Regions from separate parts of the Homo sapiens genome. Here region 2 is linked to region 1. The links come from fine-mapping of genetic effects on gene expression. Tissue or cell type: whole blood. Region 1 holds a variant in brackets; the other region holds the start of a gene. All regions are shown on one strand. Distances are from middle to middle.

Region 1 (8,076 bases):
GAACGGCTGTGTTGGCCTGGCCAGCAGCCTGGGTTGAGAGAGGGAGGTGCCACTGTCCTGCCTCCTTTTGAGCCCCCTTGCTCAGTGTCAGAACCCTCCGCTGGCTGTCCCCGCCGTGCGCCACGGCTCCAATCCCTATATGAGTGAGCAGTAGAATCACATAGGAATAAAAAGCCATAGAGAACAGCGAGGCCTGGGGCTGCTCTTGCAGGCACTTCTTCCACCCCAACCCTCCCCTCCTCCCTGAGGGTGTGGAGGGGCCCTGGGCCAGGGCTGGCAGGACTTTCCCCTGGGAAGGGTTTCCCTTCCCCACCTGGGCTCTGGGCAGCCTAGCTTGCAGACAGTTCATGACCTGGGGGCCTGGCTCACACAGGGCAGGCTGGAGATTGGGAGGGAGGTAAACGTGGTAAGCGGGCTCTGGGGACCAGGGAGGTTTAGGAAAAGGGGAGCTTGCACCCCACTGGGATGCGCAGGCACCGCTTCCTTTCCTTCTGTGCTGGCATGGAGTTCCTGCTGACTAGGGTCACAGTCTCTGGGGTTATGGTGATCCTCGCATGATCCTGTGCCGTGGTGCTCCTCTGGCAGCGTCTACATGTAGCCTGTTCCTGCCTCAGTCCTTGCTCTTGGGAGCATGAGTATTGGCACTGGGTTCCAAGTTCCAGGCAAAAGCAGGATAGGAGAGCTGGGGCAGGGGCTGCAGGAGCTGAGGGCCTGGCAGCCATGTCCCCAGTGTGTGTGTGGGTGGTAGGTGTGTGAGTATACAGACGTTGGTGTTGGCGTACTCAGAGTGGGAATGCATCTCTGAGTGTACACATAGATACTTAGTACAGGGCACATGACTCCCTGCATCCCTGCTGAGGGCTTTGGGTATGGATAGGATCTTGCAGGAGGTTCCCCCTGCTCTACATTGACCCCTTCCCTATACTTCTGTTTGTAGGGGCTGGGAGGCCAGGGCCCGGATTGGACCCCATAGGGCCAAATGGTCTGTGAGCCTAACCCGTTAGATTTGCTCACTGGATACCCCAGAGATAAGAAAGGATGTATTTGGCCACAGTCTAAATGCTGAGATGAGAAAACCCTGCACAGTGAATGTTTTGATAGGATTCATTACTTGCTCCATAAATGTCAATTTTGGATCATTGAAGTGCCCGTCCCTTGCTCTTGGCTTCTGTTTCTTCCGGCTGCTGCTGCCCTCGTGCCCACCTCATCGTCATTTTCTGAAGCTTCCCCTGGCCCAGCTGGAGGATTTCACCATGGAGGGTGTCTGGCCCTGCTGGCTATAGCAACCCTCACAGGCCTCTCCATTCTCTGCACTTGGCATGAGCCAAGAGCAGTGGGGCAGTGGGCCTGGGCAGCCCTTCAGTGTCAGCTAGTCCCAAGCGTTTGATTTATAGTTGGAGATTCAGAGAGAGAAGGTGGCTTACTGGGGACTGTACAGTCCCACATAAGGGCCACAGAACCAGGGTAAGAACCTAGTTGGAACCTGCTTGACTATCCTCTGCCACTCTCTGGGGCTCAGATACCCTGGGGCCAAGCAAGGGCTCAGCCAGATCCAGGGGATCTACTTCTGCTTCCCCACTGCCCCTCAAGGGCTTGGGATGGCGACACAACCATGCTTGGCCTCTCCAGGGATCCACACAGCAGATGTGTTGGAACCTTCTTGTCTCAGAGGGACAGCTCCATTGTGTGTGTGATTTGGCAGAAAACCATGCGCAGTTGAGTGGTGGGCTTCTACATAAATGTGTGTCTGCATCTGTATGCACATCTGTGTGTGTGTGCATGTGTGCGTGTGCATGAATATATGTATAAGCATGTGTATGTGTAGTGCAGCCCACAGCCAGTCTCTGAGCTCTGCTGTGCCCCATCCCAGGGTGGAGACACACAGGTGTAGTTAGAGTGTAGGGGATACAATGAGCAAGTTGGGCAAGAAGGCCCAGAAGACTGGCAGAGGCTAGTGTGCCTGGCCGAGGGAGTTGACTTCACATTGACATCAGTGGCAAACCTCATGAAGATTTTGGCAGGGAATAATGTCATGAAGCTGTTTTGGGACTTTAATGCTGAGAGCCAGCTTCCTTACAGCAGAGGGCGGGGGTTGGGGGCATGCAAGGAGATGGAAGGGGTTGCAGATAGGAGAGGTGCATTACCAGGCTCTGAGACCCTCTCCCACCTCCCCTATGCAGCCTCAGCTCCAAAGCCTTTAGCCAGCCCAGGGAACCCTTTAGATGCCTGCTTTGGAACCAAGGCCGAAAGCCCTGGCTCAAACACTGTTGGGAGTAACTGAGCCCATCTGTCTCTGGGAATGCCTCAGGGTGTTGAGGATTTGTGGGGGCAGAGGCTGGGCAGCTAGTGGACAGTTTGGTGGGCATAGGGACCCCACTCATGTAGGATCTCACGAGGGTGGCATTTAAGTGGCTTGGAAGGAGCACTGGAGTAGGAGTCAGGTGGTAAGTCCGAGTCCTGGCCTTCCCACCTTCCTTTCTCCAGGCCTGTTTTCTCATCTGTTTAATGGGGAAAACATCCTTGCCCTATCATCTCTTTAGGAAGGTATCAGCGGCAGGTGGATCTGTGCGGGAAAGCTCTGTGGAAGTGGGGAGCTCAGGGAGGGAGAGAAAGAAGGTAGAGGTGTTGGCCTCTTCCAAGGGGAATCTCAGGGAGCTCTTGGCTCAGGGAGGCCCTCTTCTCCCATGGTAGGACCAGAGTTAGAGCCAGCGGGACCTTGGCGCTCACTGACTGAGGCTGAGTGAGCAACCTGCTGGCCTCTGGCACTAGGCAGGCACCAGCAGGGAATGGTATCTGAGTCTTTAATGGCCAGTAGGGTGTACAGTGCCCTGGGAGATCACGGAGCTGATGGATGATCGCCTGGAGTCAGAGTGAGCTGAGCCGCCTGGAAGAGAGCCCCCTAATGTCTCTGGAAAATGGGTAGGGCAACCTGCCTCCCTCTGGGTCTGGGTCATGTGCGAGGGGCATGATGAGGCCCAGACTGAGGTGAGGGAGGACTGGCTTAACCCCAGGCCAGAATCCGTAGCTAGGTAAGAGGATTTGGGATATGCTAGGGGAAGGGAGGGGGTATGCAGGGGTGGGGGACACACACACCCTGGATGATAGGGAAGCCAATGACCTAGGCAGGCTGCCACATCAGCTATAGGACCATGGGGCTGTCGTGAGCTGTGCCCAGCCCAGGAGAGATGGGCTTTCTCCCCAAGGCTGTGGGCCAGACATCTCCCCAGTAACCGCTAGGGCCAGTTCTGAGGCTTTGCTCTCCACTTCCCCTGACTCAGCTGGTTTGTAGTGGCTGGAGGAGGGTGGGCTGGGGGTGGACACTCAGCCTGGCACCAGCTCGTGCCCACAGCTCTGATTCCACCTCTCTAGACATGCTGCTTCCATCCGGGGGTTTCTAGGGGGCAGGGGTGGGAGCAGGTGCAGCTGTCGCCTTGCTCAGATGAGGAAGTTCTAGCCAAGGGAAGAGGGCAAAACAGTTGGCCCCTGGAACAAGTGCCCCATCTGCCCAGTCCTATGAGGCCACTGCCCTTAGCAGCTCCGCCTCATGGGACCACTACTCACCAGGATTTGGCCCACCACTGCCTCCTTGGGGAGCCAGGGAGCTGTAGGACTTGGCTGTGCCCCAACCAGAGAGCCAGAGGCTAGACCCCCAAAATGCATCCCATTGAGAAGGTCTTCCCTGGTGTCCCTTCACGTCTGGGCTGGCCTTTTCTTTTCCTCCACTAGCAGCCAGCAGAGCCGCCCTGCCCACCTCCCTGGAAAGGTGTGAGCCATACATTTCTCCAGCCCTGCCTCTCCATCCCCGCTACCAGCCGAGAAGGGGGTGGGGCCCTTGGCACTTGGCTTCTGCCCCTTCAGATCATTCCCACCCACCTGCACAGCTTTAGAGTCTCAAGATCTCCTTGTGGCCCTTGGTTGTCTCCAAAAATCACACTTGTAGCCTCATTGGAGCCAGGCCTCTGTCTCCACCTGCTTTCCCCACCCCTATCCACAGAGCCCCCGTTCCTCCCTGTCCAGCCCAGTTCCAGGAAGCTGACTGCAGGAATATCTAGGCTCTGGGTTGAAACCCTGCTGTTTGCAACTCTGGGCAAAGCTCTTCTAGGGATGCTGTCTGGAGGGAGCTGGTCAAAGACCCCTAGGGGAGGGAGAAGTGCCTGTCTTTACCATGTGGGTCTATGGGTCTGGGGATCAGTAGCTTGGAGTAAAACCTGTGAGCCTATGGCAGGGGGAAGATCTCTCCCTCCACTCAGACTCTCCACCTGGGCAGTGGGAGTAGCCCCAGC[A/T]CATTCCAGCCAGCCGCCAACCCCCCTGCTAGCACAGGCACTTGTGAGGGTCACAGTCCCCTGGACGGTGCCGCTGCTGGCACCCAGCAACCCCATAGCAGCAGCCCAGTCAGAGTCAGGGTCAGAGCCCTGGACTCCAGGACTGGGCATACACTGTTCCAGGCAGCCCAGCCCCCGCCCACCCTCTCAGGTCCCCCTGAGGGTCTCTCTCAGCCCAGGGCCACCCACAGAAGCCAGGCACCCAGGCAGGAACGGAGCCTGCCAGCTCCCGGCCAGCCTTGTCCCTCTCGGCTAACTGGCCACCCCTCTGCCTCCCACTCCTGCTGACCCCCGGGGGACCTGAAGCTGGCAGTCCACTGCTGCTCCCCACTGCCTGGGGCAGAGAAGCATTCTCCCCATCTGCCTGCCCCCCAGGGCTCCGGCCACCCCATGCCTGTGTCCCCAGATCCCCAAGGCTCACCTCAGTGGCGCTGTCTCCTCACCAGAGGCACTGCAGTGTGGGAACTGTCCCGAGGAGCTGGTTCTCAGCTGAAACAAAGAGGTGGGGGAGAAAGGGGGGGCAGCGGGAGAGGGAGAGGGTGAGTGAGCGGGCGAAGGAGTGGAGGCTGGAGGGGGAAGAGAAGGGAGAGGATGAGAGAGAAGAGGAGAGGGGAGGGGAGAACAACGAGCCTGCCGCCCACCGAGAGATAAAGCCTGACACCCAGGGACTAAAGGGCCAGTAGAGGAGGGGAGAGGAAATGGGGAGGGGGCAGGGGAGGTGAGGGGCCAGACTGAGAGTGGGGAGACTGTTAGAGGGGCGGGAGAGCAGGGACAGGGTGAGGAGGTAGAGGGCAAGTGAGGGGCGTGGGCAGGAGAGGAGCAGGGTGAAAGGCAGGTTGCAGGGGGCTGGTGGCTGATGGCTGAGCTGGGCAGAGGGGCCCCACCCCGTCCCATGCCAGGCTCTGGACTCAGGGGAGACCAGTAGGACTTGAATGGCAGAAGGCCATGCATGAAGGGGACTGGCAGGGAGGGGAACCTGCCAGCCGTTGGGTAAGGGGCTGGGCTGGTGGGCTGGCTGGGAGGACTGCGGCCAGTGGCAAGGCAACAAAGACGTGAAAAGAAACAACGGCATCTGAATGGAGGAATCGGCTTCTGCTGACCCCTGGGTGCCCCAGCCCTGAGCATCCCAGCCAGAGCTTCCTGGAGTGGGGGTGGGGGGCAGATACACTCTGGGGCGGTCCAGGCTCTGAAGTGGCGGCCTGAGGTGGAGAGGAGAGGACATGGGCTGTGAGGCCAGGCAGGGGTCCCAGTCATTCTTTGAGGGCTCAGAACAACCGGGACACACACCATGATTGACCACACATGAGGATGCTGGTGTCACTGTCTTTTCGGGAAGGGGATGGTTGATGGGGCCTATCCTGTGACTGAGAACTGGGTAGGGGAAGCCCCCTCTTAGGGAGAGTGTGTGCCCTGCCTCCATCCCAGGGAGGAGGGCAGGGTAGGGAGCACAGGGAGGGAGGAGAGAAGTGGGGATCAAAGAGGTAGGGAAGCAGGGGAGAGAGAGCGGGTGGGGGGAAGGAGGCTGCAAGGGGTGGGCACGGAGCTGCAAGACCGCCGAACCAGAGGCTCCCACTCCACACCCCACAATTCTCAGGCTGCCTAATGCCGAGCTAATGAAGGATGAAATAATGAGCCACTTCCCTGCTGCTGCCCTCCTGCTGCCAAGTGCTGCTGTGACAGGCAAGGGCACTGCCTGGGGAAGTCAGCTCGGTGAGTCTGTGTGAGCGTTCGTTCACTGGGAGGGAGGACAGGATGGCCTTGAGCAGGGCCGTCCCAACCCTCTCACCCCACCAGGCACAGCCCCCGGGCCAGTTCAGCCTCCTCTTACACTCAAAGGCACAGAAGTTCCAGCCACCCTCCCACACCTTGTGACCAAGGGAAGTTCCCTTTCTTATCTCAGACTCCCAGAGCACGTTATTTGGAGAGTAGGAGAAGGGGAGGGAGCGAGGGCTTGCCTAAAGCTGTGACAGGGAGACTCCCAGAGAGTCAGCCCCTGAGTGCCACCCTCCATACAAGGGTCAGAGGTGTGTGCCCCTTAGACCCTGCCTCCCCAAGCCGTTATCACCACCTCAGGGAATCCCTCCTGGCCCCACCCAGCAGGGGTACAGTGACTTGGCTGCCACTTGTCCAGCTGTCTCTTCTTATAGCCTAGAGCTCGGAGAAGGGAAAGGACCTTCCTTCCTTCTTTCTTTCCTTATTCTTCTTTATTTTTTATTTATAAATGATTTCAAACTTACAGAAAAGTTGCCAGAATAGTGATAGTACAAAAGACACACGTGCTCTTTTGGGGATATGTTCAACTACTGTGAATATTGTGCTCCGTTTGCTCTGTGTGTGTGTGTGTGTGTGTGTGTGTGTGTGTGTGTGTGTGTGTATAGACATACATATTTTCTTTCTTACTCATTTGAGTAAGTTGCAGACATTTGAAAGGATTGCTTCCTATCTGTCTCTGTCTCTGGAGCCAGCCCACGGGATCCCAGACCACATTATGTGGAATGAATGAAGGCCTGGGACAGGCAAGGAATGAGCAGATGTCACCTACTGGGAGCTTGAGATCTGGGGACTGACCAAGGCCACCTTAGGAATTGGGCCAGCCCAGGGCTTGAGGTGGGGTAGGGGGCTGTGCTGGGCCTGGGGTCCTGGGAAGCAAGTGAGCAAGCGGGGAGGGAGCCATTGCCCACCAAAGCGAGCATGTGGTGTTTCCCGGGTGTGGAGCTGCAGCATATGTTTGTGGAGATGGTGGCAGGCAGGCAGGCGGGGTGGAGCTGGGAGAGCGGGATGGCCGTGCTGTGGCACCTGGCACACTTGGGAGACTGTGTGCTGTTGGGCCCTAAGTGATATGAGAGGACCCAGCTGTTGGAGGCCCCAGCCCCACCACCTGCCTTTGGGACTCTCCCTACAGCTCCGTGAGGACAGGGCAGGGATGGAGTCCACCTGACCAGCTGGTCTGTGCTGATCTGCTCGGAAGGGGCATGATGGGGCTCCAGCCCTACTGAGGCTTCCATACCGGTCCCTGACACAGGGCTGCGTTCTTTCTGCACCCCCAGTACCCCCAAGTAGGTTGGAGTCCCATCCGGAGACCCTCCTTCAGATGGCTGTTCTCATTCCTCCCAACTCCCACCCAAAGGTCATGGTTAAGAATTTTGGTATTGGCCGGGCGCAGTGGCTCACGCCTGTAATCCCAGCACTTTGGGAGGCCGAGGCAGGCGGATCACGAGGTCAGGAGATTGAGACCATCCTGGTTAACATGGAGAAACCCTGTCTCTACTAAAAATACAAAAAAAAAAAAAGCTGAGTGTGATGGCGTGCGTCTGTAGTCCCAGCTACTTGGGAGGCTGAGGCAGGAGAATGGCGTGAACTCGGGAGGCAAAGCTTGCAGTGAGCCGAGATCATGCCACTGCACTCCAGCCTGGGTGACAAGGCAAGACTCTGTCTCAAAAAAAAAAAAAAAGAATTTTGGTATTTAGGCCAGACTTGGTGGCTCATGCCTGTAATCCTAGCACTTTTGGAGGCTGAGGCCAGTGGATTGCTTGAGGTTAGGAGTTTGGGACCAGCCTGGGGAACATGGTGAGACCCCTGTCTCTACAAAAAATACAAAAATTAGGCGGGTGTGATCATGTGCACCTGTAGTCCCAGCTACTCGGGAGGCTGAGGTGGGAGGATCACCAGAGCCCAGGAGAGTGAGGCTGCAGTGAGCCACGATTGTGCCACTGCACTCCAGCCTGGGCAACAGAGTAAGACTGTCTCAAAAAAA
Region 2 (8,076 bases), 52 kb before region 1:
TATGCAGAGGTCTCAGGTTAGGTGGAGGAATGATTGATCTCATCTTATCCTTGTTCTGCACCTGGGCAGATAAACTTGTAATTGACATTGTCAGTGTGAAATTTAACAGACTTTGGTTTTAGGAGTTAGGTTTAGGTTGCAGACCTAAAGTTGCAGTTGACATGTCCTTGTTTTATAGGAGGATATACATCCTGAAAGTTTTAGGGACTGGCAAAGAATTTACTGCTGAGCAATTTGTGATTGCAGTCACCTGGAGATTCATGAGGCTTTTTGCCTTTTTGTGGGGATCTGGTTAATGCATAATATTTTGACACAAGGTTGCAAGGTAACAGGTATCCATTTGGGAAAAGAATGACAGTTTTGGAGAACATTAGTTCTGCAGCATAGAATGAAGTGTTGCCGGAATAAAATTAAAAAAAAAAAAAAAAGGCTGGGTGTGGTGGCTCATGCCTGTAATCCTAGCACGCCTGTAATCCCAGCACGCCTGTAATCCTAGCACGCCTGTAATCCCAGCACGCCTGTAATCCCAGCACTTTGGGAGGCCGAGGCGGGTGGATCACCTGAGGTCTGGAGTTCGAGACCAGCCTGATCAATATGGCGAAACCCCATCTCTACTAAAAATACAAAAATTAGCTGGGCATGGTGGCGGGTGCCTGTAATCCCAGCTACTGGGGAGGCTGAGGCAGGAGAATTGCTTGAACTCGGGAGGCGGAGGTTGCAGTGAGCCGGGATTGTGCCAGTGCACTCTAGCCTGGGTGACAGAGCAAGACTCCATCTCAAAAAAAAAAAAAAAAAAAAAAAAAAAAAAAGGAATGCCAGTGTTGTGTGGCTCAGTCTCCAAGCTTAACTCTCCCTTTAGCATAACAAATTTGGGGGTCCTGAAATTTTTATTTTCCTTTATGAAAAGATCAATAATCCATTTGCATAAAAAATAAAGTCTATATGGAAAAAGCCACCATCACAGCCAAAACACAAATAACAAACTGTAACTTGTTACAAACAGCATACTTGTAACTCATTTCAAAATAAAGAGCTGATTTCTCTAATATATAAAGAGCTCTCATAAGTCAATAAGAAAAAGACCAATGGTAGCCAGGCGTGGTGGCACATGCCTGTAATCTCAGCTACTCAGGAGGCTGAGGCAGGAGAATCACTTAAGCCCAGGAGGCAGAGGTCATGGGGAGCCGAGATCACACCATTGCACTCCAGCCTGGGCAACAAGAGCGAAACTCTGTATCAAAAAAAAAAAAAAGAAAAAGAAAAAGACAAATGGCCCAGTAGAAAGTGTGGCAAAGGATACAAACAGACCATTCACAGAAAAAGATAGATAAATAACATCTCTCAGGAAAGTACCTCCCAGTCACCCTTTGTTGGAAAGTTGTTGAAGGATGCACTTCAGCAAAATGAGGGAGTAAACCAAGAGACATAGGCTTAAGATCCAGGCAAGAGTGAGGCGCTTAGGAGCCCAGGAAGCCAGAAGAGCCTGGTAGCACTGAAGGAACACTCAGGCCACCTTGGAACAGAGAGGATGGGATTGCCATGTGGTTCCACATGGCTCTGAAAATAGACAATGGCTAAGCTGTGCAACAGACTGCCTATGACATTTGGTTGCCCAGAGCTTCTGTGAAAATACTTCAGGACAAGGCTTTCCCCCACCCAGGGGTGGGTTGGGGAATAGAGTGTATGCACTTTGTTTTGTCCAATTTTAGACTTTAAAATCCTCTGAGGCATCAACTGGTGAGGGTGAGGAAGTGGCCCCATAGACTGAATTGGGCCTGCCCCACCCTGGTACCTTTCTGTTCTGTCACAGTGACAATTCACAGCTCAGAGGTCCTTTGGGAAACTTTCTCTGACATCGCCCCTATCCTCTTGCCAGCTGGATGAAGCAGCATCCACCAGAACTGCTACCATCACTGCAGGGGGCTTGGTGGGCAGAGGCCTGGCTTGTCTCCATTAGCACTGCGTTCCTGTGCCCAGTGTGGCCCCAGCAGACACTGTGGGTTCAGTCAATCAGCCCCCAGGCTGGTCTGGGACTGAGTCATCGGAGGGAGTGGGTGTTGGGCACAGGTCCCTGCCCTAAGAACCTTCCTTCTTGGGCCCGAGGAACTCCCACTGGGGCAGGACTAGCTGCTGGGAGGAAGTAGGGCTTACTGAGCGTCTACCTGGGCTAGGGAGTGGAGGTGAAGGTGGACTCCTCATACAGCTCATATGCAGGCACTGGGCTGTGGAGCCTTAGCCGCTTTTAATTGGCAAGCCCTGGCTTCCTGGAGGAGGAAAGGGGAAGAGAAGTGCCCTGGGGGCGAGGATTGAGTCAGCTGCATTGTCATAATGGAAATAGTACAGCCCTGGGTGTCCAAGACTTCCCCTCCATGGGCCTCAGAATCGTCCATATGATGTAACACTCTTTTTTTTGAGACTGAGTCTCGCTCTGTTGCCCTGGCTGGAGTGCAGTGGCTCCATCTCGGCTCACTGCAACTTCTGCCTCCTGGGTTCAACCGATTCTTGTGCCCCAGCCTTCTGAGTAACTGGGATTACAGGCGCACACCACCACGCTTGGCTAATTTTTAGTACAGACGGGGTTTCACCATGTTGGCCAGGCTGGTCTCGAACTCCTGACCTCAAGTGATCCGCCCGCCTCGGCCTCCCAAAGCACTGGGATTACAGGCGTGAGCCACTGCCTCCGGCCAAAGTAACACTTTTGCACAGGGAGTTGGACTTGAGTGACAAATGGGTGACAAAGTGCTTTGTTAACTCGCAGATGTGAAGGGGACACTGCGGCTGACCGCCTGGTGACAGCTAGCCAGTGGTTGAGAGACCGCAAGATGGTTCCTCGTCTTTCACTTCCCTCCGTCCCAGGTCTGAACTCGGACCAGCTGGAGCCTTTGGGGGACCACGGATTCCCCTTTACACTCACACAGATTTCTCTTGTCCGTCACTCACTCACAGTCCAGTAAGGATCCTGCTGTCTATTCCGCGAAGACATCTTGAATGCAGGGACAGCCATTTGGAAGACTGTCCTCGAGGGTGGCAGCAGCCTCTCAGGACGGGGAAAGCCAAGGTGCCCACTAAGCCCGTCTGGGGTGGAGGGTGGCAGGCCGGGGTGGAGAGGATTGGAGGCCGCCTGAAGGAACCTGTGCTCGGTGGCATTTACTCAATGTGGGGGTCTGACACCTCCCAGCTCATTTTGTCCCCATCTTCCCCTTGCGTCAGGTCCCCACCCAGCAGGAGGAGGTCCGAGGATCTGCGCGACGCTGGCCCCGCGGAGTGTGGGGGACTTTTCCTCTCAACCACCAGTGCCCCGCAAGCGTGGGTGAACAGTCCTCCCTGGCTACTGTGGGACGCTGGGCAGGCGACTTCGCCTCTCTAGGCCTCGGTTTTCCTGCTTGTCAAATGGGGCTGATGCCGGCGTGGGCTTCTTCAGGCGGTCGCGAGCGTTGACCCCTGGAGTCAGCGAACCAGCCGCGCACGCACTCCCGGGCGGAGGTCGGGGCTGGGGGGCGACGCCTCCCGTCTGCGCGCCCCCGGCCCCGCCTCCCGCCGGCGCACCCCTCCCTCGGCTCCGCCCGCGGCCCGCTTCTTCCTCCCGCGGGCGGCCCAGCCCTAGCGCCCCGCGCTCCGCGGGCAGCCCCCTGCCGCCGCGCCATGTCCGCCGGCTGGTTCCGGCGCCGCTTCCTGCCTGGGGAGCCGCTCCCCGCGCCGCGGCCGCCTGGGCCGCATGCCAGCCCCGTGCCCTACCGACGGCCCCGCTTCCTTCGCGGCTCCAGCTCCAGCCCCGGGGCGGCCGACGCCTCGCGCCGCCCAGACTCCCGGCCCGTGCGCAGCCCCGCACGAGGACGCACGCTACCCTGGAATGCAGGCTACGCCGAGTGAGTGCCCCTCCCCGACCCCCAGCTCAGGCCCGGGCCTGAACCCGCTTCGGGTCCTGCGCCCGCCTAGAAAGCGGGAGGAGCTGAGTGACAGTCCCCACCCACCTGTGGACAGCCCCTTCTTGCCCTCACCTCCGAATCCTGACAACTTCCCGGTCATCCCGACCCAGCGTTTTCCTTGGGATTCCGACCTCCCCCTCAGAGAAGACAGGAGGTCGGGAAGGACCTGCAGCCCAGGGGCTTCCAAGATGAGGCCCAGAGACTCGGTAGAGTTCCAGCATTCGGGGCTTTGGAGATTTCCCCTCGCCCTCTACCCCCACCATCTCACCCTGGGTATGACCTGCGCTGTATGGGACAGGGCTTTGGGCTGCGACAGGACAGGGGCAGGAATGGCAACCTACCCTTACCGTCTAGCCCTGGGTCACCAGGTAGGCTCCAGAGGAGCTGGGCCCTGACTTTTACCTTAGCCATGAGGCCAGTGAAGTTAGGAAGCTTACATCGTGGTTGTCTAAGTGTGTGTTAGGGACAGCACTGGGGAGCTGTTGCCCCAGAGGGAGGGGTCTTCTCCCTGTGCTGGCTTGGGTCCCTGTGCCCATGGGGACATAGGTGTGTCCCTGGAGGGTCGCTTACCATTTCCCGGCCTCAGGATTATCAATGCAGAGAAATCTGAATTCAATGAGGATCAAGCCGCCTGTGGGAAGCTGTGCATCCGGAGATGTGAGTTTGGGGCTGAAGAAGAGTGGCTGACCCTGTGCCCAGAGGAGGTGAGTGCAGTCTGAGTTCTTGGCTGGAATCCCTCCGACAGGCTGGGGCCACGACCTGCAGGCTGAGGTTCTTACCCTGCTGCCCCAGGTCCTAGTTAGGTTGCGTCAGGGGACAAGTGGGGAAGTCAGGCAGAGGCTGACACTGAGCCCTTCCTGTGCAGTTCCTGACAGGCCATTACTGGGCACTGTTCGATGGGCACGGCGGTCCTGCAGCAGCCATCTTGGCTGCCAACACCCTGCACTCCTGCTTGCGCCGGCAGCTGGAGGCCGTGGTGGAAGGCTTGGTGGCCACTCAGCCCCCCATGCACCTCAATGGCCGCTGCATCTGCCCCAGTGACCCTCAGTTTGTGGAGGAAAAGGGCATCAGGGCAGAAGACTTGGTGATCGGGGCATTGGAGAGTGCCTTTCAGGAATGTGTGAGTGTGTGGCTTTTGGCTGGGGAAGAAGTGGAGATTTTGCCCCGGGGATCTCAGGAAATGGCATCTCTGTATACCCATGGTCATCACACCAGATCCTTGGATTGGGAGGATGAGATTGGGTTGGTTGGATTGTTACTAACAGCCATCACTATCAGCATAACCCCTCTCATTTATCCAGCACCTACTGTGTGCTAACTGCTTTTACCTGCATCATCTAATTGAATACCCTATTGGTCCTTGGTGCAGGGGCTGGTTTCTCTTCCTATTTTGAGTAGCACTTCCCTTGTCTAGATCTCCTGACTGCAGGGATCTTGGAGGTATGGCTGGACTTTGGGCTGGGACTGTCAGGCCTGCTGGTAGAAGTGAACTGTAGGGTAGGGTGGGGATTGAGAGACAAAGTAGTATGGTGGCAGAACAGGCAGCAGCTAAGGTGGCCTCGGTTTTCCCCAGGATGAGGTGATCGGGCGGGAGCTGGAGGCCTCAGGCCAGATGGGCGGCTGCACAGCCCTGGTGGCTGTGTCCCTGCAGGGAAAGCTGTACATGGCCAATGCTGGGGATAGCAGGTGAGTCACCCCTTGGAGGGTGGGCAAGGGTGGGATGGGGAGGGCATAAGCAGCAATGGGGACAAGCAAAGGTGGCTGGAAGTGGAGGGATAGTAGGAAGGATTGACTGGCTGAATTGTGTGTGTACTTGTTATGTGTCGAGTGTGGACAGTGGCTGCCGGGGAGGGCAGGGACCTCAAAGGCCCCGCTAAAGGGCTAAGCCTTCACCCTTGCAGGTCTTAGGTAGTCATGGAGGGCTTTAAGGGATCATCATGGACAGAGCTGGATCCTGGTGGTTGGAGGAGGGACTGGTAGGAGGGTGGCCATGGGTGAGGGTGGAGGCCTCCTCCTAGACCTCTCCCTTCTCTCCTCAATCCAGGGCCATCTTGGTGCGGAGAGATGAGATACGGCCACTGAGCTTCGAGTTCACCCCAGAGACTGAGCGGCAGCGGATCCAGCAGCTGGTAGGTGCCCTTGGCAGCATGGAGGCTGTGAAGCTCCAACTCCTGGGTCCAGGGCCATAAGAAGGAGTATGACCTGAGCGCAGCCTCCCCACCCCAGGCCTTTGTCTATCCTGAGCTTCTGGCTGGTGAGTTCACCCGACTGGAGTTCCCTCGGCGGCTGAAGGGGGATGACTTGGGACAGAAGGTTTTGTTCAGGGATCACCACATGAGTGGCTGGTGAGTGGGGATGGGGGACAGGTAGGAAGGGAGACCCCTGGGATCCAGGCCCAGCCGTATGGCCTGGGGCCCCCCTCCACCTTGGCAGGGTGGCACTGTGAGGGTGTGACAGCTGGGCCCTGAGTTGGGGAAAGATGAGATGGGGCACAGGGCTTGGGTTGATGCTGGCTCTGCTCCTGGTAGGAGCTACAAACGTGTGGAGAAATCGGATCTCAAGTACCCACTGATCCATGGACAGGGTAGGCAGGTCAGTGCCTGGTCCTCCTCAACCCCAAGAATCCCTCTTCATTGTCCCCTGCAGAGGTGGGAGCTCCTTTGCCTCTTGCTGGTAGCTGTGGCTGGTGGCCTGGGATTTGCTCTGAGACTAGGAATTTTCTCTCTCAGTCCAAGGCTTCCAAGGGCCACAGTCCACCTCTCCCTGTGTGCTCTGCAGTGCTAGGGCCTGGTACTTGTGCATTTGCTGGAGCTGTTTGCCATCGCCTCACACCTCACTTTCCCTCAGGCTCGGTTACTAGGAACACTGGCTGTCTCCCGGGGCCTGGGAGACCATCAGCTCAGAGTCCTGGACACAAACATCCAGCTCAAGCCCTTCTTGCTCTCTGTGCCACAGGTAAGGGGGCAACGCTGTCCAACCCAGCTTCCATCTGCCCAGAAAGGCAGACAGTGAGGCTGGTGGGAGTCGGGAAGGGAGTGTGCAGGATCCTCAGGCTTAATTTGTAGGTGACTGTGCTGGATGTGGACCAGCTGGAGCTACAGGAGGATGATGTGGTTGTCATGGCAACTGATGGACTCTGGGATGTACTGTCCAACGAGCAGGTGGCATGGCTGGTGCGGAGCTTCCTCCCTGGGAACCAAGAGGACCCACACAGGTACTGTAGCTGCTGGGGACCTGCCTGGGCCTGGGTTGGTGCCAGCAGCAAGCCCAAGTAGTTATGGCTGAGAAGACAGAGCACTGACAATGAGCTGGCAGCTGGCCAGGATCAGGGCTGTCTCAAGCTTCTTGGAGGAGGCAGGGAGACCGTGGGTTCCGAAAATCCCTGGATTTAGACTCTCATGGTCCAGCCCGTGGCCCTCCCAGACTTGCTGCTTGCTTGGTCCACAGTCGGACTGCATTGCTTGGGTCCCCATGTCCAGCCTTGTGCAGTGAGTTCTCCTAAGGTCTGGCCTTGCCCCTTTGCTCTGCCCCTGAAGTCTATCTGCAGGATGGTCTTCACAGGTTCTCAAAGCTGGCCCAGATGCTGATACACAGCACACAGGGAAAGGAAGACAGTCTCACAGAGGAAGGGCAGGTGTCCTACGATGACGTCTCTGTGTTCGTGATTCCCTTGCACAGTCAGGGCCAAGAGAGCAGTGACCACTGAGGATTCAGACACTGTATCCCAGAACTGCTCTAGTGCCCGGGTGTGGTCTGGGCATCCCTCCAGTGTGACCAAGAGCAAATCCTGCCTGCCCTATCCCTAGCCACCGCCCAGTGCTCTCACTATCCACCTCAACACACATCCATCTCAAGAGGAACATTTATACCAGGCAGTCAGAGCTGGAAGTGTATGGAGAGCCCAGCCCACCAGGTCCTGCCTTTTGCGGTGATAACCTTCTCTGGCAGAGTGACTTTACAACTTAACTAGGAAACCCATGTGAGGCTCCTCAGACAGGATCTTGAACAGCCCAAAGTATCATTCTCAGATAGGGGCACCCAAGCTAAGGGTATTAGCCAAAGATGCCAGGATGGGTAGCTAGCCCATGTTTAGATCCAGGTCTCCAATTCATGGTTATCAGGGCATGTGTTCAACAACCCCCAAAGTCCA

The links. PIP is the estimated chance that this variant, and not a neighbour inherited with it, causes the effect.
Region 2: PPM1M starts here. The variant in region 1 is fine-mapped to the expression of PPM1M in whole blood (TOPMed, PIP above 0.99).

Annotation. Positions count from the first base shown.
Region 1 is chr3:52,294,114-52,302,189 of GRCh38, forward strand. It overlaps GLYCTK (glycerate kinase), which reads left to right. Exons shown (of 5, transcript NM_145262.4): 5 at 1-1,144. MIR135A1 (microRNA 135a-1) reads right to left here and starts at 195; the gene lies at 106-195. RefSeq lists enhancers at 4,838-5,708, 5,709-6,578. The variant A/T (reference allele first, on the strand shown) is at 4,284.
Region 2 is chr3:52,242,183-52,250,258 of GRCh38, forward strand. PPM1M (protein phosphatase, Mg2+/Mn2+ dependent 1M) reads left to right here and starts at 3,577. Exons shown (of 10, transcript NM_144641.4): 1 at 3,577-3,866; 2 at 4,513-4,630; 3 at 4,792-5,046; 4 at 5,500-5,612; 5 at 5,971-6,055; 6 at 6,153-6,271; 7 at 6,455-6,518; 8 at 6,774-6,881; 9 at 6,992-7,140; 10 at 7,488-8,076. The coding sequence starts at 3,643. The coding sequence ends at 7,632. RefSeq lists silencers at 3,451-3,820, 3,861-3,920.